Linked DNA regions of Homo sapiens. The protein of the gene in region 5 purifies or fractionates together with the protein of the main gene of each other region. This does not show direct contact. Each region holds a gene or a part of one and is shown on either strand. Other genes may lie near its edges. The genes, in order: MANEAL, MAN2B2, GDF11, CHSY3, SIAE, TENM3 and DCBLD2.

What was found.
Region 1: the proteins of SIAE (region 5) and MANEAL purify together in Homo sapiens (affinity purification with mass spectrometry; 2 studies listed by BioGRID and IntAct, with this or other methods). This does not show direct contact.
Region 2: the proteins of SIAE (region 5) and MAN2B2 purify together in Homo sapiens (affinity purification with mass spectrometry; 2 studies listed by BioGRID and IntAct, with this or other methods). This does not show direct contact.
Region 3: the proteins of SIAE (region 5) and GDF11 purify together in Homo sapiens (affinity purification with mass spectrometry; 2 studies listed by BioGRID and IntAct, with this or other methods). This does not show direct contact.
Region 4: the proteins of SIAE (region 5) and CHSY3 purify together in Homo sapiens (affinity purification with mass spectrometry; 2 studies listed by BioGRID and IntAct, with this or other methods). This does not show direct contact.
Region 6: the proteins of SIAE (region 5) and TENM3 purify together in Homo sapiens (affinity purification with mass spectrometry; 2 studies listed by BioGRID and IntAct, with this or other methods). This does not show direct contact.
Region 7: the proteins of SIAE (region 5) and DCBLD2 purify together in Homo sapiens (affinity purification with mass spectrometry; 2 studies listed by BioGRID and IntAct, with this or other methods). This does not show direct contact.

Annotation. Positions count from the first base shown.
Region 1 is NC_000001.11:37,792,492-37,796,646, reverse strand, and holds the start of MANEAL (glycoprotein endo-alpha-1,2-mannosidase-like protein), read right to left. Parts: upstream 2,801-4,155; 5' UTR 2,465-2,800; coding exon 1,915-2,464; intron 1,160-1,914; exon of another isoform or gene 911-1,159; coding exon 801-910; intron 1-800.
Region 2 is NC_000004.12:6,581,689-6,585,188, reverse strand, and holds part of MAN2B2 (epididymis-specific alpha-mannosidase isoform 1 precursor), read right to left. Parts: intron 1-3,500.
Region 3 is NC_000012.12:55,749,622-55,753,121, reverse strand, and holds part of GDF11 (growth/differentiation factor 11 preproprotein), read right to left. Parts: coding exon 3,240-3,500; 3' UTR 1-3,239. UniProt on the Homo sapiens protein: Secreted signal that acts globally to regulate anterior/posterior axial patterning during development. May play critical roles in patterning both mesodermal and neural tissues. It is required for proper vertebral patterning and orofacial development.
Region 4 is NC_000005.10:129,907,465-129,910,964, forward strand, and holds part of CHSY3 (chondroitin sulfate synthase 3), read left to right. Parts: intron 1-612; coding exon 613-896; intron 897-3,500. UniProt on the Homo sapiens protein: Has both beta-1,3-glucuronic acid and beta-1,4-N-acetylgalactosamine transferase activity. Transfers glucuronic acid (GlcUA) from UDP-GlcUA and N-acetylgalactosamine (GalNAc) from UDP-GalNAc to the non-reducing end of the elongating chondroitin polymer.
Region 5 is NC_000011.10:124,667,240-124,670,739, forward strand, and holds part of SIAE (sialate O-acetylesterase isoform 1 precursor), read right to left. Parts: intron 2,283-3,500; coding exon 2,121-2,282; intron 1-2,120. UniProt on the Homo sapiens protein: Catalyzes the removal of O-acetyl ester groups from position 9 of the free diacetylated sialate N-acetyl-9-O-acetylneuraminate (Neu5,9Ac2) in the cytosol and of the diacetylated sialate residues of sialylglycoconjugates in the lysosomes.
Region 6 is NC_000004.12:182,795,902-182,799,401, forward strand, and holds part of TENM3 (teneurin-3), read left to right. Parts: intron 1-735; coding exon 736-866; intron 867-3,500.
Region 7 is NC_000003.12:98,818,196-98,821,695, forward strand, and holds part of DCBLD2 (discoidin, CUB and LCCL domain-containing protein 2 precursor), read right to left. Parts: intron 2,094-3,500; coding exon 2,053-2,093; intron 1,223-2,052; coding exon 1,007-1,222; intron 1-1,006.

The DNA.
Region 1 (4,155 bases), on a different chromosome or scaffold from region 5:
GTTCAGAAGAGGGCCTGGCAGTGGTGGGCACAGTAGAGATAAAGGCAGCTGCTGCCCTTGAAGGCCAAAACAGGGGTGAGCAGTTTGCCCATCTCCCGCAGCAGGGCATGTGGGAATCATTTTGGTGGGCTGTTACAGGGTGGCTAATAGGTTTCAACCTTGTGCCAGCTCCAAGTGGTTGGTGCTAGCTGCCTGAAACAGTGGAATAAGTATGCTGAAGCTGTGTCAGTGGAAAACTGCTGTGATCTGTTAGACATGTCAGTGGTGGAATTCTCTTCAGGAATAGGGGAGTGGGGCTTTTCTTCTTTCTCTATCATTTTTCTTCCTTCACCACAGAAGCAAGGGATGACTTACTTGATTGGCACATGTGGGGAAATGCTTCGTCCAGTCCGTCCTTCCTCTTGAAAGTGAGCCCACCTGCTGAGAACACCTGCCTACTCCTCGAGGTCCAGCACTGCCTCCCACTAGAGAGTTGAGTCTGCAGGTCCCTTTGGCTCTTGCCTACCCTTTTTCCACCAGGGTTTACAACCTAACCTCTATTATTATTTAACAAAAGTGATAATTATTTAGTCTTCTCTTGGTCCTATATTTAGTTTTCTCAGTTTTCTTAGAATTCAAAAAACTAAGAGCAACATAGGCACCATTTATCTGAACCCTCCCCCAAAACCACACTTGCCACATATTTGTTATCCCTTTGGGCTACTGCCAAGAACTTCTGTAGAGGCACTAACCCTGTGGGCGGAGGAGAGCAACTCTCCAGAATAGGGCAGAGAGCACGTGGCCTCTTCTTGGAGACTCACCTGGATGCTGTACTGATGGGCGGTGTCCAGAATGGCGGGCACCAGGTCATCTGAGGGCTCCCCGTTATCATCAGCCATGCCAGGTGGGTACCAGGACAGGACCAGGACGCCTGAGACGCAACACAGAGGCCACTTCAGAGACACACAGTACCCCCCTCAACAGAGATTTTTTTCCTCACAAACATCTCCAATTGCAAAAATGGTTCCTAAAAACCTGAAGCAAGCCTCCTGCCAGGTTCACTTCCTGCAGATGAGTCCCAGAGCCTCGCGCCCCGGAGCTGTCCACGCCCGCGGTGCTGAAGCGGAGCGCCTGCGGGAACCGTAGCGCGCCAGGCCGGAAGGGAGCCAGGCTTTAGACTGCCTCAGCAAGTAGTAGAACAAAGGGAATGGGAGGACAGTGCCACACCCACCTGGAAGCCACAGGCCTACCTCTGAAGAAGAGAAGCACCCCTAACCCTAACGTCCCGCATGGAGAAGAGCCCTGAGCAGAGGCCATCTGTAAAATCCAGCAAAATTCAGTGACGAAATCCGAAATAAGTGAGCCTCCCCTCCATAGCCTACGAAGGAGGCGCCCTGGGACCTTCCCTCCAGCTGGGTGCTTGATGAAAAGCCTCTAAACCCCCAACACTACCTCCAACTGCAAATAGAGCAGAGGCCTTCATGGAACACGGGCACACTTTCCTCTCTGCAGCCAGCAAAAGCAGGAACGGCTGCTGCTCTACCCTGTACCTGCCATGAAAGCAGAGGCCGCCCTAAGTTCCACTCCTCTGAACCCCAGAACCTGCGGGCCAGGACTCCAGGCCTCACTTCCCATCGCCCAACAAATTTGAAGACTCTGCCTCCCTCTCCTGGTGCAAACTCCTAGCAGTTCCGCCCTATGGGAAGGGCCCTGGATGTTAGGGATGGAAGGGCCCAGCTGGGGGGTCTGAATACTAGACGGAGGGGCGGTGTCGCATGGTGGGCCCAGGATGAGAGTGGGAGGGAACAGCTAAGAAGCCAGGCTGGCGGATAAGTGGGACCAAAGGGCCGGTGACAGGACCAGAGGGAGCTGGGGTGTGGGAAGGAGGAAGGGTGAGGCTGGGGGGCAGGGCCGCCCGGGGTGGGGGGCGCTCACCGATGGCGGCTTCCTTGAGCTGGGTCATATGCTCCCGCAGCACTTCGGGGTCCCGGGAGCTGTAGGGCCCCAGCTCCGGGTAGAAGCTGGAGCCCAAGTCGTCTGGGGGGCTGTGGCGGCCGCGGGGGTAGCTGGCCGAGATCTTGGGGTCCCAGTGCGGCACCATGACGTGGTCCCAGTGAATGTAGTGGCCCTCGCGCCGCGGGCTCCCGTACCACGAGTAGTAGAAGGCGTGCAGGTCCGAGTAGACGCGCAGGCTCTGCACGGGGGCGGGCTCGGCCTCCGCGGGTGCCGGCCCAGGGGAGCCGCCAGGGTCCGCGGTGCGGGGCGGCGGCGGCGGCGGGGGCGGCGCGGCAGGGGCTGCCGGGGCCCTGGCAGCGGGCGCGGGGGCCCCCTCTGGGCGTCGCTCAAAGGGCGCCAGCTCCAGGCCCGGGCCCAGCGCCGGGAGTCCGTCCGGAGCCTTGAGCGTGCGCAGACCCATGAGGGTGCCGAAGGCGAAGAGCAGCACCAGGAACAGAGCGATGCAGGCGCGGCGCCGCCGCCGGGCCATGGCCGACTGTGCGCTCCTGCAGCCGCCGCGCTACCTCCCAGCGTGCCGCGCCATGGCCGCCCGCCCGGCCGCGCGCTTCCCAGGCAGACTGTGCGCCCGGCAGAGCGCGGCGTGGGCGGCGCCCGGCCTGTCCCCGCAGTGCGGGCGGGCTCGGCACACAGGACGCAGGCGGCGCGGACCAAGTGGCCGCGAGCCGAGGGGGAACTGCACGCCGAGTGCAACGCAAGGCCCAGCGAACGGCGAGTTTCGGGGCCACAGGAGCAGGGGCCTGAGTCAGGCCGCGTGACCCGCGAAAGAAGAGTCGCCTGGCTGCCTGGGCGGCAGGTGGTGGCGCCTGGCTGGGGAGCGGGGACGCAGGCCTTCCGGAGCGCGGGAGAGAGGCGGCGCGGCGGGGGCGGGGGCGGAGGCGGGGCGGGGGGGGGAAAGAAGCGCGCGTCGGTGGTTCTCTCCCCAAGGATTTCCTTCTTCGTCGATCCACCTTTACTCACTTCACTGGCCCCCTCCCTACGGGTCTCAGTGCCACCCTTCTAGCCCCAGGTCCCCCATCCCTCGGCCCCCCTCCCCGGCACCCCAGGCAGCCCCTGAACCTCGGGGGAAGGGGCGTCGGGAAATCCCCAGGAATCGGACCCTGCAGACGCCGTCCGGGGCCTGGCGGGCGGAGGACGACCGTGACTCGCGCAAGGTCACACTGACCGGGCCTGGACCCCGGGTCAGGGCGCACTCTCCAGAGCTCGCTGCACTGCCCAGCCTGCCGGGTCGCAGTGTGGCTTAGTGAGTTCTCTGGTTGGAATCTCACGAAGCCAAAATTAAGGCGTTGGCAGGTTACACTCCTTTCTGGAGGCTCTAGGAACGGATCTACGTCCAGCTCAATGGCAGAATTCAGTTCCATACAATTGCAGGGCTAAGGCCCCCATTTGCTTGCTGGCTGTCATCTGGGGGTCTTTCTCAGTTTCTAGAGGCCTGCTGCATTTCTTGGCTTGTAGGCCTGATGTCGTCTGGAGCGGTCTCTCCTGGGAGAACCTCCTAGAGTCAGGGAGGATTAAATGAGATGGTTCCCGTAAAGCACTTCCACGGGGCCTGAAAAGCAAGCGCTCAATACATGTGCGCCTTTCTTCCTGGATTCTGGGCTCCAGAGGACAGGCCCCGTCTTATTTACCTTGTTAGACGCCAAGGGCTGCCGGAACAGCATCTGACACTCACTTCCTAGTGCCGTTTAAGTGAGTACCAGCCCCTGGTGTGATAGTCTGTAGATAATAAGCTTTTCACTCGCTATTGATAGAGTTCCTACACTGCATTATTCATTACTTCATTTATTCAGAAGATAGTTTTGTTTATCATATGCCTCCTTCAGTGGTCCGCAATGACAGCAACTTTGTTTCATTCCCTGTCTGCATGTCTAAAACAGAGCTTGGGATGATGGCGGGCACCCAGTTCTTATTGGTTAAGTAAAATGAATTGTAGGGAACCCAGGAAGAGGAGCAGGGAGCTTGGGAAGTGTTGGTAGACCTGCAGCCGAGGAAAGTGAGCTTGAGAGACCTTATGGTGGTAAATGTGAATGAAGTGGAATGCCTTCAGCTCCAGGTCGCCCATACCCGATTCAGCCTGACTTAAGGAATATGCCAGTGTATCAACTTGCAAAGCAAGGAGCCCAGTGGCAGGGCAGAGTGGGTATTTTCTCTGATCCAACAATG
Region 2 (3,500 bases), on a different chromosome or scaffold from region 5:
TGTGGGAGGTGAGGAGTGGGGCTGGCATCAGGTGCACAGCAGAGGTGAGAGGGGATCAGGGGGAGCGTGGACTAGGAGTGTGGGTGGAGGCTGTGCATATGTAAGCAGAGAGGATGGAGAAGGAGCAGCCAGAGGGTGGGGGGAGCACAGGGGGAGTGCCAGCTGCAGGATGAAGGAGGGAGTGGGCAACAGCACCGCACTGAGAGGAGCCAGGAGCTCTGGAGGGTACGGCCTCGCACCAGACAGGGCAGCCGGTGGGGGCAGGCTGAAGGCTGCCAAGTCAGCACCCCTTTTTCACTCGCAGAACCTTCCCTCTGTTCAGGGTGCACCATGCCCAGCCTCAAGGGACGAATCACAGTTGATCTAAGCCAAATGTGGCACGCTTACTCCCTCCTGTCAGATATTGGTTCTCTCTGTCTGGCAGCTGGAGGGGCATTGTTAAGTAATGAACTGGGAGGCCATCAGGCTGAGCCGGCTCCAGGCCTCGAGTTCCTCTGTCAGCAAACCCAAATCTAACTTGGTGGAAACAGGAAAAGAGAACTTAAGCTTGACCCATCGGAAACTGCCAACCAACCTCTAACTAGGGACTGTTCACTGTAGGCAAATGTTTTCTTTGTCTTGCTTTCAGGAGCACCTTATAGACGTTTCCCTCTCATATTCCCTTAGTGGAGCCATGAACTGCTCACAGTCTAGTACTTCCTGATTCAGGAATCACTGTTTGTTCAAATAAATGCTAACATTTTAGTGTGTCTAAGTTTATCCAACAGAATAGACTATGGGTATAGAAAGCCCCCTCTCTTCCTTTTACTGCCTTGAATGTGGTGTCTGGTAACATGATGGCTGGAGCTATGGCAGCCATATCGTGACCACAAGGGTAAGGACATGAGAATCACAGATATCAAGGTACTGCAGAACCAGTCCCAAACTATCCCCATCTTGTTAAGTAAATGTTCTTAAGACTCAAGTCGCTTTGTTACAGGTAGTTAGACAAGCATGAGTGGGGCAGGGGAGGGCTCTTCCCCCACCCACTAGGAATGTTGGGTGATGGTTTGGCAATTATCACATTGCCTCTCTAGAAGTGAGAAATTGGCAGCCAGCACTAGGGAGAGGGCATTTCCTGATGGTCCACACCTGTTGCACTAACATGTTAATTGAATGCAGGTGCCAGGGAGACGTGACTTCCCGAGCAGGTGCATTAAGAGACAAAATGGCGGAGTTTGACCTTCCAGGGACACTCCACTGGAAAAGGGAAGAAAGCGTCAGATGGGCATGTGTGCAACTTCCTAAACACAGTGCGTGTGCTCACCTCCCAAGGGTAAGGAGGGCACTGTGAGTGCGGGTAGCCCAGCCTAAGGGAAGAATCATGGGAAAGGGGACCAGCCTATAAAGTCCTAGGATCAAGGATCAATACAGCACTTGACCTTCACGTGCCCACTTGGGACTCTTTCAAGCATATTTTCCTTTCTTTCTCATTTTAAAGCCTTTTTAAATAAACTTCCACTTCTGCTCTGAAACATGCCTCAGTCTCTTTTTCTGCCTTATGCCCCTCAGTCGAATTCTTTCTTCCGAGGAGGCAAGAACTGGGGTTGCTGCAGACCCGTACGGATTAGCTGCTGGTAACTTGGATACCTTCCACCACTAACAGCTTTACTTAGGTTTTCTGGCCGTCCAGCAGAAAGCATTCCTGAGACTTCAGGGTGATTCATGACCAAAACTGTTAATTGGCGTCCGATATACATTCTGTCCTTCTTCCTTTTAGTAACAGAACCACACACTCCTTCTTGGTTTTAGCAGGGCAAATGGACTCCCAGCCAGAGACTACATTCCCCAGCCTCCTTTGCAACTGGTAGAGGTCACATGACACCACTCTGGCCAATGGACTGGGAGCAAAATAGACTCTATTCCCCAGCAGTCCCTGCAGTTGAGGGAGGCCATATGATTAAGTTCTGGCCAATGGAAATGTGAGGAGTGATGTGGGCAGGTTCTAGGTCGCCTTTTACAAGGAAGCTGCCTGCCCTGGCTCCACCATTCCCTATCCCCTAGCTGCTGGAAGGACAACTCAGTGGGGTGAGCCAGTCTAGACTGCAACTCAGGCAGGCAACACTGTGGGGGATGGCTGAACATCAAGATGGAAGCAACGTGGATCCCTGGGTCACTCCATGGAGCAGAGCCACCCAATCACCAGAGTGGCCTGCACTGCAGACTTCCACAGGAGAGAAACACACCTTCCTTCTTGTTGGAGTCACTTGGTCTCTGTTCAAGCTGCTGAACCAGTATCCTCACCAGTATAATGACCAGGCCACAAGCAAGCTCACTAGCACATGCAGGGCAGAGGCCAGGATGCAGGGGCTGAGGGTGAAGTAGTGGGAGGTGGTGGGGGGTGAGGGGGTGGTGGGAATAAATGCCATTACAGCCTGAGCTGGAGGGTCTTGCTTTATGATGTTGAGGTCAGGAGTTCAAGACCAGCCTGGGCAACACAGTGGACCCCATGTTAAAAAAAATTTTTTTTTGAAGAGAGACAATTTAAGTGTGTTTTCAATACTGCTGGGGGCCGGGCTTGGTGGCTCAGGTCTGTAATCCCAGCATTTTGGGAGGCCAAGGTGGGCGGATCACTTGAGGTCAGGAGTTCAAGACCAGCCTGGCCAACATGGTGAGATCCCTGTCTTTACTAAAAATATGAAAATTAGCTGGGCATGGTGGTGCACGCCTGTACTCCCAGCTACTCAGGATGCTGAGGCATAAGAATTGCTTGAACCTGCGAGGTAGAGATTGCAGTGAGCCGAGATTGCGCCACTGCACTCCAGCCTGAGTGACAGAGTGAGGCTCTGTCTAACAACAACAACAACAGCAGCAACGGCAACAACAACAACTAAATACTGCTGGAAGGAGTCAGAGAGACAAGAGAAGGTGGAAGAGAGTCTGTGACACAGGAGAGGGATCGCGGATTCAGTGGGAAGGGAGTGGGGTTGGGGGACAGGGCTGAGAGCTTGGGTTTGAATGGCCAGGACAGCAGTGGTCATCCAGGATGGCCCAAGGTGTCTCCTTGACTCTCACCTGGACCCTTTGCCTCTCAGCACCTCTGAGGCGGGAGCTGGGCTCTCTCCCCTCAGGATAGGGGTGAGGGGTTCTTTCCCTCTGGCACCTGCCACTCTGCTGGGCCTCCGCTAAACATCCCAGCTGGGAAAGTGTCCCCTCAGGGAGGGGCATGAAAGCTCTTACCCCCGGGGGCCGCTGCCCACACCCAGCCTTTCCCTGACACTGCAGTGCTGGGAACAAATGCTTTTCCCCTCACTAGAAATGTCACATCTAAAATTAAGGTGGTGTTGGCGTGACTGCCGGGAGCAGGAGTTGGGGAGGTAAAGGCTGGAAAGGTGAGCTTACGGGCAGGCCCAGTGCCCCAGGCCCTGGCGGGCAGCCAGGAGTGGGTCTTGGTTGAGGAGATGCTTTGGCACCCTAGATACCCGAAGAAGAAGGTCAGAGGTCTAGAGGCTGCACCAGCC
Region 3 (3,500 bases), on a different chromosome or scaffold from region 5:
TTGGCTCAAGCTTTTCAGAGAGGGGTTGTTCTAGGTACCCCCAGTTTCCTGTCCTCTTTCCATCCTTCCTTGGCCTGCATGTCCCAAACCTTATACCACCATGCCCTTAGTGTTTTCTGTCTTGCTCCAGGACCCCATCTTCTTAGTCATTGAACACGAGGTTTCCTGTCTCAGATCCTCTTCACCTCCGGTTCTCCAAGGTGTAAATGTGGCACTTGATTAGGGAGAAGAGCTCAGCACTGAATTCTAAACTCTTTGACCGCTTTTATTTTTTTTTTCAGGTTCAAGTGCTGGATTGTGTCATGTGACCATCCCAAAACTCAGAGCACCCTATGGCCGTCTTTGCCCTCTGTCACATAACTTGAAAACTGCCTGATGGCCTTTTTGCAGTGGTTCCCTCCAGGAAGCCTTGATCTCAGTTGAAGAAGTTCTTTCCTGGCATTCCAATGCCCCTGTCAGCTCCATACTCCTCAGACACCCTTAACAAAGGCTGTCATGCACACAATGTGACAAATACACAAAATAAATGATAATTACACTAATAATGATATGTTCAGAGGGGCACTGGCCAGGTCCACACACATCATAAGGTGGGAGGGGGTGCTAACTCCCACTGGGTTGCTGAGCTGTGCCCCCCAAGTCCCTTCACTCTGTGCCTCTTTGGGGGTAGGGAGGAACAGGGGAATGAGACTTCAGCTCACAGATTTATGTTCATAAGAGAAAGACCCCTGCCCCCCCCCCACCCACCACACACACACAAAGGTCTTTATTTGGTGGTATTTAAGGAGCTGTATTCTAAGTGTCCCCCATATTTAATGCCCCAGCTCTCTAGAATCTGTAGAGGGAAGATACCTGATGCTTATTGCCCAATCCCTACTCTGCCAAGATCACGAGGCATTTGACCTTGGAGGGAGGTATCTGTTCTTCACTTCTCTGTTCCTTTCCTTCCACCAAGGAAATGTGAGTGGTGTTGATGGCCGGGTGTGTCTTGTCCTTCAGGATTGGGGCAGAAGGAAGGATGAAGAACAGGGCCAGAGAGGCTTGGGGTTAGCATAGCTGCTATATGGGTGAAGGCAAGCTGAAGAGCCTAACAGCCCTGCCCATTCCTCTACTGAAAGATCTTGTTTCACTTTCTCACTATAAGAATAGGAATAAGATGTTAAAGCTCACCAACATCACCTTCTCAAGGGTGGTCACATACCTTTGCCCCTTCCACCAACTGGCCAAGGGGGAGAGTCATGCTCTTGGGAAGAATGAGCCATCCAGTTTTGCTCACCAGCTTGGGCTTTACTTTAGTTCAGTACTGTTTTTATCAGACCCGTAACTGCTGGCTCTACTTAGAGTGACAGTTTTGCTGAAGATTCTTACCCCCACCTCTCCTGACATCCTCTAAGCTCTTGCCTGGAGCCAAGAGGCCTGGTGGTGAAGTAAGGATAGGGTGTGGATCAGGAGATTCTCAACTCCTTGGCTTCTAGGCACTGTCCAGCTGGGAGGCAGAGGGGAACTTGTACTCTGAAGCCTGTGACTCCTCTTAAGCCTCACATCTCTTCACCACTACTCTGGTGCCCTGGTTATCTGTCCCACAGCGAGAGGTATTTTATGTCCATAAAGTGCCCGTGGTAAGTGCTCAGAATTCATCTCTTGGCTGTGGCGGGTGCTGTCATTTCTCATTCCATTGAGGGGAAGAAACTGAGGCACAGTGAGTCCAGAGGAGAATGGGTCAGGGTTGTGGGAGGAATGAATGGGCCTAGCTAGTGACTTGAAATGGCAACCAGTCTCTGCCTGCTTCCTAGCCTTCCAAGCCCGGGAGTCTCCATCCTTCCCATCCTCTGTTCTAACTGGCCTTGTCAGATGCTTTTCCCCACTGTACTTTCCCCTCCCTGCTGCCAGGTACTGTTAGATTCCAAAAATAAAAGGAAAAAATAATTATACACTCTGCTTCCTTGTTCTCCCCTCTTCCACCCTGAGCTTTGGGGTTAGGAGACTAAAATGTCCCCCTTCCAGAATCCTTCCCACCTTGGTCTGCTGGCTCTATTCCCTAGCCCAGAGCAGTGATTTGGATTCAAATGCCCTGTAACCTTCAGCCTCCTTACTGCTCCTTTCTTGACCTCTCCTAACGCTTTCCAGACCCAGGGGACTCTGGGGTCTCTATACTCTCTCTAATTGACCTGAAGATAGAGGCTGGGAGCAGGGCCATTCCAGAGGCTCTTTGGTCTCTCTCTTGGCTGAGGGAATTTGGGCATAAGCAGGCTGCACCCTCTGGCTAAATAACTCAGCATCATGAGGGTGGACCTGAGGGTTTAAAGTAGCTCTCATTATATAGATCCTGGATGTTGAGGGTTCTCTCTCCCACCCCCGCATCCCCAGCTCTTAAACCCTAACCTCTTACTATTTCCATGACAACTGGCTTCAATTCAAGCCATTTGGCTCAGAAAAGGTTGAGTTAGGGTGATGATGGGTTAGAAACTAAACTTCATGTGTCCGCCCTCTTGCCCTTTACTCCCATTCCCAACCCTGGAGGCTTTATACAAGTGCTTAAGTGAGTAGGTGTTGGGGAGAGCAGGGTTTGGGGAATAAGGGATAAACGGGGCACAGTGGGCAGGGGCCCTCCTATTCCAGTAAAGCCAAATACCAAAAAAATGAAAAGTCACAATAAATAAATAAATAAAAATTCCCAAATCTTTTTGCCCCTGCCCTCACTTCCCCTTCCCCTGGCCACTGTTGGAGGGAGAGAAGGAGAAAAGAATGGATTTTTGATTTCTTCTCCTACTGAATAGTCAGGGGATCTCCCCAAACTATACCAAGCCCCTCACCTTGCCAGTGGAAGAAAGGAGGCTTGGTGTGGGGCTTTCATTTATTACTCCATTTCAGTCTCTTTCTCAGTGTTTTGTCTCTGCCTCGTCTGTCTCTTCTGCCTCTCTCTTTGCCTTCTCACTGCTGCTCTTTTTGTTCCTCTGTCTCTATCACTGTCTCTACATCTCTCTGTCTTTTTGTCAAACCTTCTCATCTGCAAACTTCAAACACTCCCCACCCTGACTATGCCCCTGCTTCCCCTTTCCCCCAAACCCCTCACCCTCAATTCCCACCTGCCTCCCTCTGTTGTATTGCACACGGCTTGGTCGGGGAACGGTGTGATGTTCGCGGGAAGAGTGGAGGGAGCTCTAGGGCTTGGGGGGATGGGGGCAGGGCTAGGGGTCTTGGGGTAGGGTCTGTGGGGGAGGCATCCTCTATCCCCCACCTTAAGAGCAGCCACAGCGATCCACCACCATGCCAGGGATCTTGCCGTAGATAATCTGCTGCTTGTCATTGAAGTAGAGCATGTTGATTGGGGACATCTTGGTGGGGGTACAACAGGGCCCAGCAGAGCCTCTTGGATTGGCCTGCTGCACCAAATGGGTATGCGGATATTTTTGCATGAACATGTACTCGCACTGGCCGGAGCAGTAGTTGGCCTTGTAGCGCTTAGGTGCGATGATCCAGTCCCAGCCGAAAGCCTCAAA
Region 4 (3,500 bases), on a different chromosome or scaffold from region 5:
TTTATTTTTAAACGTTTTTTCTGAACTTAACAAACTGCAAGTGAAACCAATTACACTAATTTTTGACAAACTTTTTTCTAAAAAGGTGCCTTCCCAAATTAAATTTCAAGACAGGTTTGATTCAAACATCCTCCAAAACTGTGCGGGTTGTATATGACTGAAGTTTAGTTAATGGCAAAACACTGAACTAAACCAATTATGAGTAAAAAATAATTATTAGGTATTAAGAGTCAGCCAAAACAATGCTAAATACCAGTATTTAATATTATTTTATATTCCTGGGAACTTCTTGTTACTTCAAATGTACTAAGAAACCTGTCTTTACTTTCCTTGTCATTATTTCACTTTTTACAGAAAATTGATGATTGTCAGAGCTGTTAAGGTTTTTCAGTGACCTTAACCAGAAGCTGGTACAATTTTAATATGTTTAAATTAATAACTATGAATTAGTCTTTTAAAAATAATAGAGTATTGGAAGAGGCTTTTTCTTCTTTTCAGTTGTGTAAGACTGAGGATTTTAAGCACAATGTTGAAAGTTCTGTCCCTTACCTTGTACATGATAAGTGATTATGAAATAAGGAGACATAGTAATTGTTGCCTTTCTTTTTGTAGGTGATAAATTAGAAGAGTTTCTTAGATCGCTAAACAGCAGTAAGCCTCTCTACCTGGGACAGACTGGCCTGGGGAATATTGAAGAGCTTGGAAAGCTGGGACTGGAGCCTGGGGAAAACTTCTGTATGGGAGGACCTGGCATGATCTTTAGCCGAGAAGTTCTCAGGAGGATGGTGCCACATATTGGTGAATGCCTTAGAGAAATGTACACGACTCATGAGGATGTGGAAGTAGGAAGATGCGTTCGCCGTTTTGGTGGGACTCAGTGTGTCTGGTCTTACGAGGTAAGCATGGAGCTGTGATGAAAATGTTCACATAGTACATATACATGCCATTTTATAATCTAGGGCAGCGATTCTATTCATTCTCTCTGTATCTTTGTATTTACTTGAAAGTGATAGTAGCAGCCCTTAAGGGATACAAGAGTGGGAGATAACTTTCTCATTAGGTGTCAGGCCTGTCTGAGACTTTGTTATTAGCATGCCCCTTAACTTTAAGCAGTGGCCTATACTTATGGCCACATCTCTGGAAGATGCTTATATCCTCCCCTGCTTGATTTATTGGTGCTTATATACATGTGAATCTATTTCCCTTTTCTAACAAGAGGTTTAATTTTACTCTTCTCTTTAGCTGTAGCCTTTAGCATTTGGTACTGTGCCTTTTTATTTTATTTTATTTTATTTTGGTTAGGTGTGTAATGGCATCTCTTTGTTTTTAAATGGTTAAAATCTGAAGTTTCTTTGGATATTTTCCAGTGGAAATTTAACATATTTTTAAAAGTATCAGAAAAGTAAACTAATAGTGTATCATTTATGGTAGATGTATTCACAAAATTCCAATCACTGTATTTCCTTAGGCATACAAAAGGAATGAGTTGTCTGGAAAAAAGCAGAAGTTTAAATGGTGTGCAGTAGCTGCTTAGTATTTTTGACAGGTTCCCTAAAATTTGTTTATGTCTATTCTTATGCTATTTTCTGAAAAGGAACCATTATTTAAATAATCTTAGCTATTTATTTATTGCCGTGATCATTTTTATGAAATACTTAGAGATTTTTTCTTCAGAAATTGATTTTGAAATGTAATAACATTTTATTTAAAATAGATTTCCTAAAAGATAATTTTAGTAAAAATTTATTTAACATTAAAATAATGTATTGTTTTTAGTATAGTTTGGTTTTCAAGTAGTTGGAATTTAGTATTATTTTAGCTACGGAGTGCACAGCTTTGTAAATTATATCTTAACTCCTTTGCTTATGTTTTCAAACTTTTCATGTCACTTAGTATAGAAGAAACATTTTATGAAAATATGTTCCCTGTGAAGTCACCAAACACACAGTTTCATTTGTTTTTTTTGTATTGTAAGTGTAGTCTCACTATAGTTAATTTTGCTTTCTCTTTCATACTTTGTGGTATTTATACTTTGGGGACATATTTTATACATTACAGAAAGTAAAATTTATTAGTCATTTGAAATAGGCATGAAAATTTGAAATGATTATGTTGCTGATTTCTTTTGATAATAAAATGGTAATTTGTAAAAACTATCCTACAACTACCCTTTAGGATAAAAATTTATGTAAAAACATTACAGTTTAGAGACAGGTAATCTAGAATAAACTCAATAAAATATTTCTTCCTTTGTTATAAAACAAAGTAAAAGACAAAAATATTCAATACAGAGAACATATTCAGTTGATTTTGTTTACATGCTGTTATTGTTTTGCAGGTATTTACTTTGCATGGATAAGTAAAAAAATATTTGTGTGGATAAGTAAAAAAATCTCACCTGTAGTTAACAATATAGATGGGAAATTATTGTGTTTTATAGGATACTTTATTACCTTAACATAATATATAAAATTTTAACCAAGATAGTGTTTAGGTGTTCTTCTTTTCAAGTTCTCATTGATTCTGCTGTGAAGGCCTAGTCTTCACCTAGCATTCCATTCATTCATGTTCAAGACAGTAAGATATGCACAAAAATTGGGAGCTCAAAAATTGATTTAATATTTTATTTATAATATAGGCCTTTGTTCTGGTTAAAGTGAAGAGAAGTTATATTATAGATGTGCACCCTGTCTATTAGAATAAGTGCAATCTTAGATCCTTTTATTAACTGATGTAAGAGCAAACAAAAGAGATTCCAAGTCTTACAGGCTGTAACCTGGTGAATATAACATTTTCCATAACTTTTCGTAATACATTTGAATTTAGACTGACACTTGACCATCACTGACTTATGAATCCGTATAAAACTAAACTAATTGTCTCAACATGTTTTCCTAGCATTATAAAATATTTTCTAGATAAGTACTGTTGACTTTATGTTTTGCTAAGTTATTATATAGAATTTACTTTGTATTGGGATTTCAGTCATTAAAGGAGCTATTTAAACAGTATTTATTTAAGGGAGGCATTGATTTAATTCTAATAAAAAATCTCAAAAGTCTTATATAGAGAAATGATGGTAAATTTTATTACCAAGAGATATGTGAAAAAGCATTGTTAGCAAAACTAGTAAAGATACATATACAAAGAGATTATATCTAAATTTTAATACTAGATTGTGTTCTATGTTTCATGAGACACCTAAGTACGTAACTTGGGGCACAGCTAAACTGGTTATAACATTCACAGATCCCATACTTCACTTTCTAATTTGGATTTTATGTTAGTGGAAATGGTGTCCATATATGATACTGTTCATATTATATAGAAAGATTGGTCTATTCTACTCCAGGTTGGCATTCTCAGTAAAGGTGAGATTTTACATCTGCTCATTAAAAAAGCTATGAAATTGATCATTACTTTTTTTCCCATAGTTCTTTTAAAAGCACTATCTGTGATAGAATTTTGGTAAATTTTTAAATTTCTTTTATCTATGCCTT
Region 5 (3,500 bases):
GCACAAACAGAAAGCACTGAGAGTCCCTTGAATCCTTCACTTTCAGGACATCCTGCAAGTCACTGACGGCATTTAGATCCAACAGAGAAGCATGTCTCAATCAGCTGAAGCTTCCCTTTCGGTCTTTTAGTTTACCCAACAACATTCTTACCTTAAAAAGTCTTAAAACCCAAGAATTAGAAGCACTTACCTTACATCAATGCCTGGCATATAGTATTTTTAAATGTTTGCTGAATGGAAATGAATTTTGAAGAGACTGCATCAGGGTCTGGATCACTCGGGATTGGATCATCAGTTTTGTATACTGATAAAACCAACCAGACAATCCTTGCTTTCGGGGGCCAGTACAATTCCCACAAGCATCCCTGTCACATATATATGCTAGCCATTGCTCAAACCACCAATTTGTACCTGAACTCCACCTCCACCTCTGAGCAGCCTCCTCATCTGTCTCATTCGCACCTCCACATCACACAGCTATAGCGCTATCTGTAACATCCAGCCCTGAGCATGCCTTCCTTCATCCCATAACTTCTAGCTTTGCCTCCTCCACACCGGCTTCTATATCTTTATCTCTTCTAGACAGAGACTCACTCCTTTGTAATATCTCCCTGCTCATGAAAACTGCTAATTCTCACCTTCCTGAACATCCCCACAGCCACTCTATGAGGTCAAACCCTCATCATCTCTTGCTTGGATATCACAGCAGCCTGCCCACCACCTCTATCTTACTGATCTCCAATCCATCTTCCACAGTGCTGCCACAGCGAACTTTCTAAAATATCTATCATATTCTTTTGCTGTTTAAAAATCTGTCCGTTTAGAATAAAACATACACTCCTTAGCAATGACAAACAAGTCTCCCTGTCTTTCCAACCTATCTCCTGTCATCTGCCCAGTCACACACCCCCCAGTGTTCCAGACCAACCAACCTGCCTGGCATCTCTCCCATGGCCCAGGTACACTCAGGCCTCCATGCTTTTGCCAGGCTATTCTCACTACCCAGTGTGCCCTGCTCACCTCTCAAGATGAGCCTCAGACTACGTAATTATCCCTACTCTCTACAAAGCACTCCCATCGCACCTTGTTCTTCCTCACTGTGGCACTTATCACACTTAACGATAACTGCTTACTATCTTCCTGTCTAACCTGCATGCCTCATTAAGGAAGAGGACATATCTGTTTTACTCATCACTGTATCACCAGTACCTAGCACAGTATCGGGCACATAGTAGGCTCTCAATAGATATTTGAATGACTGACTAAATAATAATAGTAATAGTTACAATCATGACTGCTAAAACTGACTCTGCACTTGTGTGCCAGGCACTGTTACAAGTCTTTACCAGTGTTAATTCGTTTAATTCTCACAGTAATCCTGTAGGTATCATGACGATCTCCATTTCACATATAAACTGAGACATGGAGATGTTATATTACATGTCCAAGATTATTCAGCCGTATAAATGACAGAATCAGGGCCTGAAAGCAGTGACTTCCAGAGCCTTAGACTACCAATATGAAGTCTTACATTCTTACATTATGGCACTCTCAGTAAATGATGCTGACTTAGAAATCCAAAGAACTGCTGGTTCTAATATATTGGTTTAAAAATAAGAAATGGGATTTACATGGTGCTAGTCTTGGGTTTTAAGACTTTTTAAGGTAAGAAGGTAAGAAGGTTGTTGGGCAAGGACTACCAGAGTTCTTACCCTCTCCTCCATACTGCCTCTCCTCTATATATGATTCAGCTCAAATACCATCTTCTGTGGAAACCTTCCCTTACCACCCAGTCTGAGTTCAATGTTTCTCCTCTGTACCCCAAGACACCCCACATGTACCTTCATCATAGCATTCATCACGCTGTCCTATATAACTTGGTATCTATTCCCATTATTCTGTAAGTTCCTTGAGAACAGGAACTTTGACTCAGTCTTATTTTTGTTTGTATCCTCAGTGCCTAAGCACATGGCAAATATTCAAATAACTTTTATGGATGAATGGACAGACGGATGTAGGGACGGATGGATAATGTGAGCTACAGCATTAGCATTCATTTTCAGATAATCCAGCAGGTGGCAGAAGAGGGCAATAGCTGAACGGAAGATGGGCTGCCTTACCTTTCACACTGGTCACTTTCTTCATGATGGTTTCCTGACCTTGGCGCAGGGTCACGGTCACTGTGGCTCCAGGTGTACCGAAGCCCCATATCACTGCCCCAGCAGGCTCCTTCTGCAGCACCATATCATTATTGATGTATGAAGCAAAGCGAAAACCAATACCTAAAAAATTTAACAAACACTGAGGGAAGCATCATCGGAGAGATATAGCACCAACTGGATCAAGTGAAACAGCAAAGAACATACAGTCTTTATGCAAGAGAATTTTAACATACTAAGTCCCTTTAATCGTCTAAAACTGGCTCTTCTTCCTCCTAATTAGGCAAGCAACATAACAAGAACAGTTTCCAACAGTATGCATCATAGCACATGATGACCACTAAGGAAAATTCCCAGAGCCCAAGGCAACCAATGGACCATAGTCTTCCCTCTCCTTCAGAGCTCTTGATCTTTTTTTGCTCTTGGGCTTGGCCCTAACGCTGGGCTCTCTCCCGCAAAATCACTAAAATGCTCCTTTCATGCACCTATAGATGGTGTTTATGAGAAAAATAAACCACTTCCTTTCCCTACTTTCCATTACCACACCTGCTCCTAATGACTGGGAATAAAACAGCATGCCTCTCTCCAAACAGCCTTCCCTAATCTTTTTCCCCTTCTCTATCTCCCCTTTTCTATGCCACTAATGCCAATTTCCTTCAAATAATGCCCCTTATCATGGTTTTTTGACAACCCAGTGTACTGCATCAAAAATTCTAAATAAGCCCTTATAAATACTCATGACAAGTCAGCTTCCTTCTCAGGTAAATTCAAATAAATCAAGACACATAAATAAGGTCAGTGAGAGATAGAAGGTCAACATGTCTGAACAAAGGTCTTCTGTCACAATTTTACCCATTCCACAAGCTAAATTATACTAAAAGGACAAGAGAAAGCACACTAGAAACTGGATTCTATTCTAGAGAGTCACTAACAAGACTGAATAAGAACTCGCTTTAACGACATCATTCCTATTTTTAACATCCAGCCTATATAAAAGTATTTTATTAATACAAACATCCATCCAAATTATCTCAGCGTGTTCCTCATCAAAACTTAACAAGGAAAAAAATAAAACAAATTATATCCCAATTTATCTGAATAAAACAGACCCCAAACTACCTAAAATAATTAACAAAATTTAGATCTTTTTAAGCATTTTAAACAAAAATGATAGGCAGAAAAGAGAACCAGAATTAACAAGGCTGACATTTTCCTCCCTGGAAGCTACAAATGATGAGGGCCCCTTCGGCTATACTTAACAGGGCAGCACAGCTAATGGAGTCGCCTACACAGCTCCGTGGCCTATTTATCCTGCTCTTGGAATAACAGCCCAGTCCCTAA
Region 6 (3,500 bases), on a different chromosome or scaffold from region 5:
AGTTCTGTAACATTATAACCTCCAGAATAGAATAAAAGCCTTATTCTGAGCTGAATGGCTTTTGGAGTCACATGGCAATATTTTAAAATACCACCTTAAAGGTTTCCGGGTTCTCTCCCCAAAAAGTTTGTCTCCACCTGTGCACAGTGAGCCTTTGAAGTCACAACTGATGGTAATCAGGACTTCTGGGCCCTTGGCCAGTTTTGCCAGCTTGCAGCATTCATCTTTGATTAAGAATCAACTGTTGATTTTAATACTCTCAATTTAGGGGTTTTATTAATAGAAAATGGGTTGTGGAAGTCCGCATATCCTTGGGCAATCGCTTTGGAGAGCTAATAACACACAACTTCTATTTGAGACCAGCCTTGACCAACTACAAAATAAATTTCGTTTCTTTTCTACAAGTATGTCTCTCTCCTGCTGCTGTGCATTGTTCTTACCTTTGCTAGCACTGTTACTAGCACAGGCTGCAACTTAGCAGGACTGATGGCTTACCCAGTCTGTCTGAGCATCTATTACTCGCATTTTTCGTAGCATTTGCCATAGTTCTGCTGTGAAGGTTACCGTCTTCATGTCTAAAAACAGTAGGTTTAGATTTGTAGGACGAAAGCAAACAGGTGCTCTTTTTCAGATTATTAATTGTGAAATTGGATTTTCTTTTTAAGGTAAGAATTTAAATTTATGAAAGGACAAAACAAACTCCAACACCTTTCATTCTGAACATTCTTCTCCTAGATGTTAACAGCTGGCTGGTGACATTTGGTTTCCATCTGCACAATGCTATTCCTGGATTCCCTGTTCCCAAATTTGATTTAACAGAACCTTCTTACGAACTTGTGAAGAGTCAGCAGTGGGATGATATACCGGTAAGAAACAAAAAGACCTACGGAAAGGTGATAAGTAGCTTGTGTCTTATCTACCCATATCTAATCAAACTACCCTTGTGAAAACTGTACCAAAGACAGTTTTTAACTTTTTGACTGTTTTAGGGAAAAAAAACAACACTTCCTCTGCATTTGTGTTCAACAAACCAGAGGCCTCTTAAACAGGCTTAAATATGTTTTCAGCAATGCTAATGAAAACATAGAAATGCAGAAGCTCACTTTCGAGTGCTGGGTTTCTAAAAAGAACCCCAAGAAAGCGTGGACCTGAAGGCAAAAATACAATAAACAAAAGGGCAGGGAACTCATATTACAAATTAGCAAACCACAAACAATGCCACAAGGTTCAACTTCTTTAAAAATTAACAGTGTTTTGGCCGAGTGAGGGGGCTCACGCCTGTAATCCCAGCACTTTGGGAGGCCGAGGAGGTCGGATCACCTGAGGTCGGGAGTTCGAGACCAGCCTGACCAACATGGAGAAACCCCATCTCTACTAAAAATACAAAATTAGCCCGGCATGGTGGGGCATGCCTGTTATCCCAGCTACTCAGGAGGCTGAGGCAGGAGAATCACTTGAACCTGGGAGGCGGAGGTTGCAGTGACCCGAGATCACGCCATTGTACTCCAGCCTGAGCAACAAGAGCGAAACTCCGTCTCAAAAAAAAAATAATTAATTAATTAATAGTGTTTCATAGGAAAAGATTAAAAATAAAAATAAATGTCCTCTGGTAAGGCTCCACCTACAACCAGGAAGGTTTATGGAATTTTCCTGAGAATAGCAGATCAAGAGGCCTGTAACCATTATAAGAAATAAAGAAATATAATAGAAAATTGCAAAGTCAAAGCTGCCGCTTCAGAAAGTGGTACTTCTAATCCCCACCAGAGACCAGAAAGGAATGCACAGCAAAACACCAGAATTTCCAGCTTACAGTAAGAATAATTAGAGATGGAGAAACTGGGTGACTCCATGATCATAAGGAGAAGACAGTGCAGACTTTCTTAGGACAATTAATTCCCAACCACCCCTTGAGCAATTTCCTATCATTTCAATGAAAACAAAGAGAAGAGGCAGCCATGGTTAACACACACACAGGCTATCTACAGTACCAGTACCTGTTTTTTGTTGTTTCATACCTAATATAAAAGCAATTCCTTTTTCATAAGTTACAAATATAGTCGTGTGTGTGCAACATTTTGGTCAATGACAGACCTTGTATAAGGTGGTGATCACATAAGATTACAATATCATATATATTTTTTTTTAATTGAAATGGGGTCTCACTGTGTCACCCAGGCTGGAGTGCAGCCTTGACCTCCTGGGCTCAAGCGATCCTCCCACCTCAGGCTCCCAAGTATCTGGGACTACAGGCACGTGCCACCACACCCAGCTAATTTTTTATTTTTTGTAGAGATAAGAGTCTCCCTGCGTAGCACAGGCTGGTCTTGAACTCCTGGTCTCAAGCGTTCCTCCTGCCTCCACCTACTGAAGGGCTAGGATTACAGGCATGAGCCACCGGGCTCTGCCAACACTGTGTTTTTACTGTACCTCTTCTATGTTTAGATACACAAGTACTTACCATGGTGTTACAGTTGCCTGCAATATTCAGTACAGTCACACCGTATACAGGTTTGCAGCCTAGAAGCCATAGGCCATCCCATACAGCCTACGTGTGCAGTAGGCTACACCATCTAGGTTTGTGTAAGTGCCCGCTATGATGTTCACACAAGGACGAAATGGCCTAATGCCACATTTCTCAGAATGCCTCCCTGCGGTTAAGCAGTGCATGACTGTCTACACTGATACAGTGGCATGAAGACATACCGAAGTTTCCTAATGCATTTGAACATGCACTTCCTAATTGTGTATGACTTTCCAACATGCCTGAAAACACCTACATCTAACTGTACAAATGGACTTGCCAGCTCTTTTCCTAAGCAGCCTTTTAAATATGGTTCAAGTTCTCTGTCAAAAGAAGTGCACCATAAGGACAGCATAGGAAATCGTGGGCAAAGACACTGAGGCTGCCCCAAGTACAGAAAAACAACTGTTTCTTTCATTGCCGCAAATGAAACAGATGTTTTCATTTGGGAAACAATGGCCAGACAAACATCTGGTGGTATAAGAAATGGCTGAGTTAAGATGCCCCCAATTTAAAACATTTGCCAGTCTAGACGGTCCACTGTCCCTAAGTCTGAGAAAAATAATTGTTTTCCTAAAGTAACAAATATCGTCTCCAGCTGCCCCACCTTCCACTCATCCCTGTACATTTCAGTTCTGCGGTTACACTCACCATCTTCAGCTGAAAACTCTGCCAGGAGAGGGGACAGAGTTGACTTAAATACAAGCATTTCAAAGCATACGAAGCGGGGCCCTGTGATCGGCACTAAGTATCCCCAGCCGTTCAGATCCCTCTCTGTGTTTGGTGGCTTCTCAGCCTCCTGTGGAGAAAGCTACGAGCATGCAGATCCGGATGAGCTGGGTTCCCCACGTGGGGTGGGAGTGGGAAAAGAGCATCTAGAAACTGTAAGAGAAAAGCAAGAAACAGGACTATTTTTCCCATGTTAGAAACGAAGAAAGCTTTAAAGTGATCCACGATGAGTGAGCCATTTGGGGGTTCC
Region 7 (3,500 bases), on a different chromosome or scaffold from region 5:
ACAGATTAAAGATGATTATTGGTATTATTTACAGTACCAAAACAAAATAAATATTTTAACAAAATTAAACCAATCCCAACCAATTATTCCGACCATTTGCTAAGTTCCCCTAAATTAAATTTATACTCTCCACATGTGGAAAATTAATGATCTCATCATTTAAAATGGACTCCTTTAACATAAATTTCTCTTAATGACTGTAGGAGACCGTTATTTTAGATGTCTCAAGACCACTTTACTGAAACACTACCTTAAAAAAAGAGTCTCATTACAATGGAAACAAAAAGCTATTACGAATTAAATACTGTGATGGTTAATACTGAGTGTCAACTTGATTGAAGGATGAAAAGTATTGTTCCCAGGTGTGTCTGTGAGGGTGTTGCTAGAGGAGATTAACATTTGAGTCAGTGGACTAGGACACGCAGACCCACCCTCAATCTGGGTCGGCACCATTTAATCTGCATCAGCACGGCCAGAATAAAAACAGGCAGAAGAAAATGTGAAAAGACTAAACTGGCTTAAGTCTCCCAGCCTACATCTTTCTCCCATGCTGGATGCTTCCTGCCCTTGAACATCAGACTCCAAGTTCTTAGCTTTGGGACTTCTGGACCTTTGACCATAGACTAAAAGCTGCACTGTTGGCTTCCCTACTTTTGAGGTTTTGGGACTCGGAATGGCTTCCTTGCTCCTCAGCTTGCAGATGGCCTACTGTGGGACTTCACTTTGTGATCATGTGAGTCGATACACCTTAATAAACTCCCCTTTATATATACATCTGTCCTATCAGTTGTGTCCTTTTAGAGAACCCTGACCAACACAAATAACTCCTTTTCTCTGCCATGTTTCATAAAATGTGTCTCTAGTAATATTAACATCAGTGAAGAAAATATAAAACCATATAATTACAATTTTAATGCCTTAATTTTCTCTGAAAATCTTAGATGTTACTAGTTTTTCAAATAAAATAAGTGTTACAAATTGCTTTAGAAAATTTTTGTCTCTTAACCTGTTATTTTCTTTTCCTTATTCAAATCTATTTGTAACCACTGGTATTCATCAGTGGCAAAAGCAGCCCAAGGCGGTCCAGGTTTTTTCAGCCTGGCTTTTTTGGGTTTCCAACTGTTCTCTTGCCCTGTGTGGTCAGTCCACTCCAGCACAGATGATGCTGTTATTTGAGGATCCGCGATCACACCAGACTCCATCCCCAGTGTTCCATAACATCCTGAAACAAAGAAAAGACTAAATTTGGTTTCCAGGTATAATTTCAAAATGCATGTAGACCTGCTCACTGAAAACTTTCTATTCCATCTTTAATTAACATACACTACACTAATAATACACTGTAACAGAGAAATTTCAAAACTAGGCAAGTGTTTCTTGGGCATATGTCTTTGTGTATCATTAGGAAACCTACAAACATGCTCATTTATAAGCATGACTGTTAGTTTAATGGAGATACATTATCTTCTCCCTGGGACACTCTTCCCAAATAACTGAGTAACTCACTCCTTTACCTCCTTCAGGTTTTTGGCCTATGTTGCATTCTCCCTGAGGTCTTCCCTGGGAGGAAGGCCCTTCCCAACTTCAATCCAGTCCTCCTTATTTTCCTACATCTTTTATCATATTGTAAACAGTACATTATAAACAGAAATTTATTCATTGCTTATCATCAATCTCTCACTACTAGAATGTAAGCTCCAGGAAGGCAGGAGTTTGTTCACTTTACTCTATCACTCGAACCAGAGCAATGCCTGGCACATAAAGAGAAGGCACTCAGTAAGTATTTTCTGTTGAACGAATTGATTACTTCTTCAGACAAGTTCAAAAGTCATCTTTCTTAAGGAACCTTCCTTGCTTACATGACCATTTCTCTATAAATATAAAACTTTCAATTTGCTCTATTCATTATATTATTAGATAACTATCTTACCTCATAGTGTTATTAAGACAACTACGTGAGAAAGTACAATAAATCAGCAACTGACACAGTGCCTAACAGTGTTCAAAAAATATTATATAAATAAAAAATTATAAAGTCCATAAAAGGCTTACCACTTGTCTTAAATGTAAAAAGACTTGTAGATAAGTGTCCCCTGAAAGAGAGAAGGGTTTTTTTTGGTGATACTCACATAACACATGATGCCCCATATTTAGTGAAACATTTTCTTTTGATTTGGTTCCCCCCACCCAATAAAAGAACCAAGAAGACTGTGTGGCTAAAAATTAGACAACTAATATTGTTCCTAGGAAAAAAGTCTCATTTCTAAGCAGGACAACTTCTGAAATCAGCATAAACAGCTTTCTCTACAAGTATCTAGCACCCAGTTTCATATGTGATTGTGCAAAAGTTCTCTATGTAATCTTTAATATGTACTTCTTTTTCATATGTATTTACTCATTGTTTACTGTCAATCTCTCACTACTTTATTTCATGAAATAAATGGATTCTTAACACTTTTCTGTGGCAAATGCTTTCGATGAAAATACACTAAAAGGTCTAATTCTCAGAGAATGAGGCTCAAGTTTTTTCGGATAAACATGAGAAAAGTTGGGTACTAATAGATTTCTTTTTCTTTTTTTTTTTTTTTTTAGGAGAAATCAACATCTCATGGAAGAAGTTTCAGTGTACACTCCTGCCTTTAGTCCAACATACAAACCATTACAAGAGGATGCAATTTATCCCTGTTTTCTTTTTTAAAGTATGAAAGAGAGAATTCACAAACACTAAATCTTTCTAAAGGTATAACATGGTAAAGGAATGAAAGGGTCTGCATAAAATAATCTAGAAAAAAAAAAAAAAAAAGAAGGGAAGGTAGTTGAATCTATACCAGGGATGGGCAAATGACTGCCCATGCATGGCCTGTTTTGTATGGGCCGTGAGTTAAGAATAAAGAGCTATAAATAAAACAAAAAAAGAATAAGCTGCAGCGACATGTGGCCTGTAAAGCCTAAAATATTTATTAGCTGGATCTTTACAGAACAAATCTGCTGAATCCTGTTGTATACCAATCTGGATATGGATGATGCTTGTGTCTTCTGAATGAAAATTGGCCTAGGACCTCTGAAGAAAAGCTGGTTTCAATTAGGCTTAGTGTTGTCTGAAAGACTGAGCAGATCTAAGAGACAAGATTTATAAAAACAGATTGCTAACACTGCATTTCTATTTAATGTTTCAATTTCTCTTGCTTTTGATGCCTACCCTACGTTTTATAAAACAGTAGAACACTATAGTTACCATGAAAATACATCTTCAAAATATTCTCTTAGAATGAAAGGAAGATTCACAATAATGCTTATGATGTAACACTTTATGTCAAACTTAAATTTATATTTAAAGTATTTCAATTATCTTGAATCCCCATGTGCTATAAGGAACACAGTAGTTAAGCCTTTCAATCTGTAAAATAAATAAGGATTTGGCAACAAACTTCTAGACTCTTATGTAGACTTTTTTTTAACACTTAGAAAAGACAGAAGAAACACATTACTCTTCCAAATGA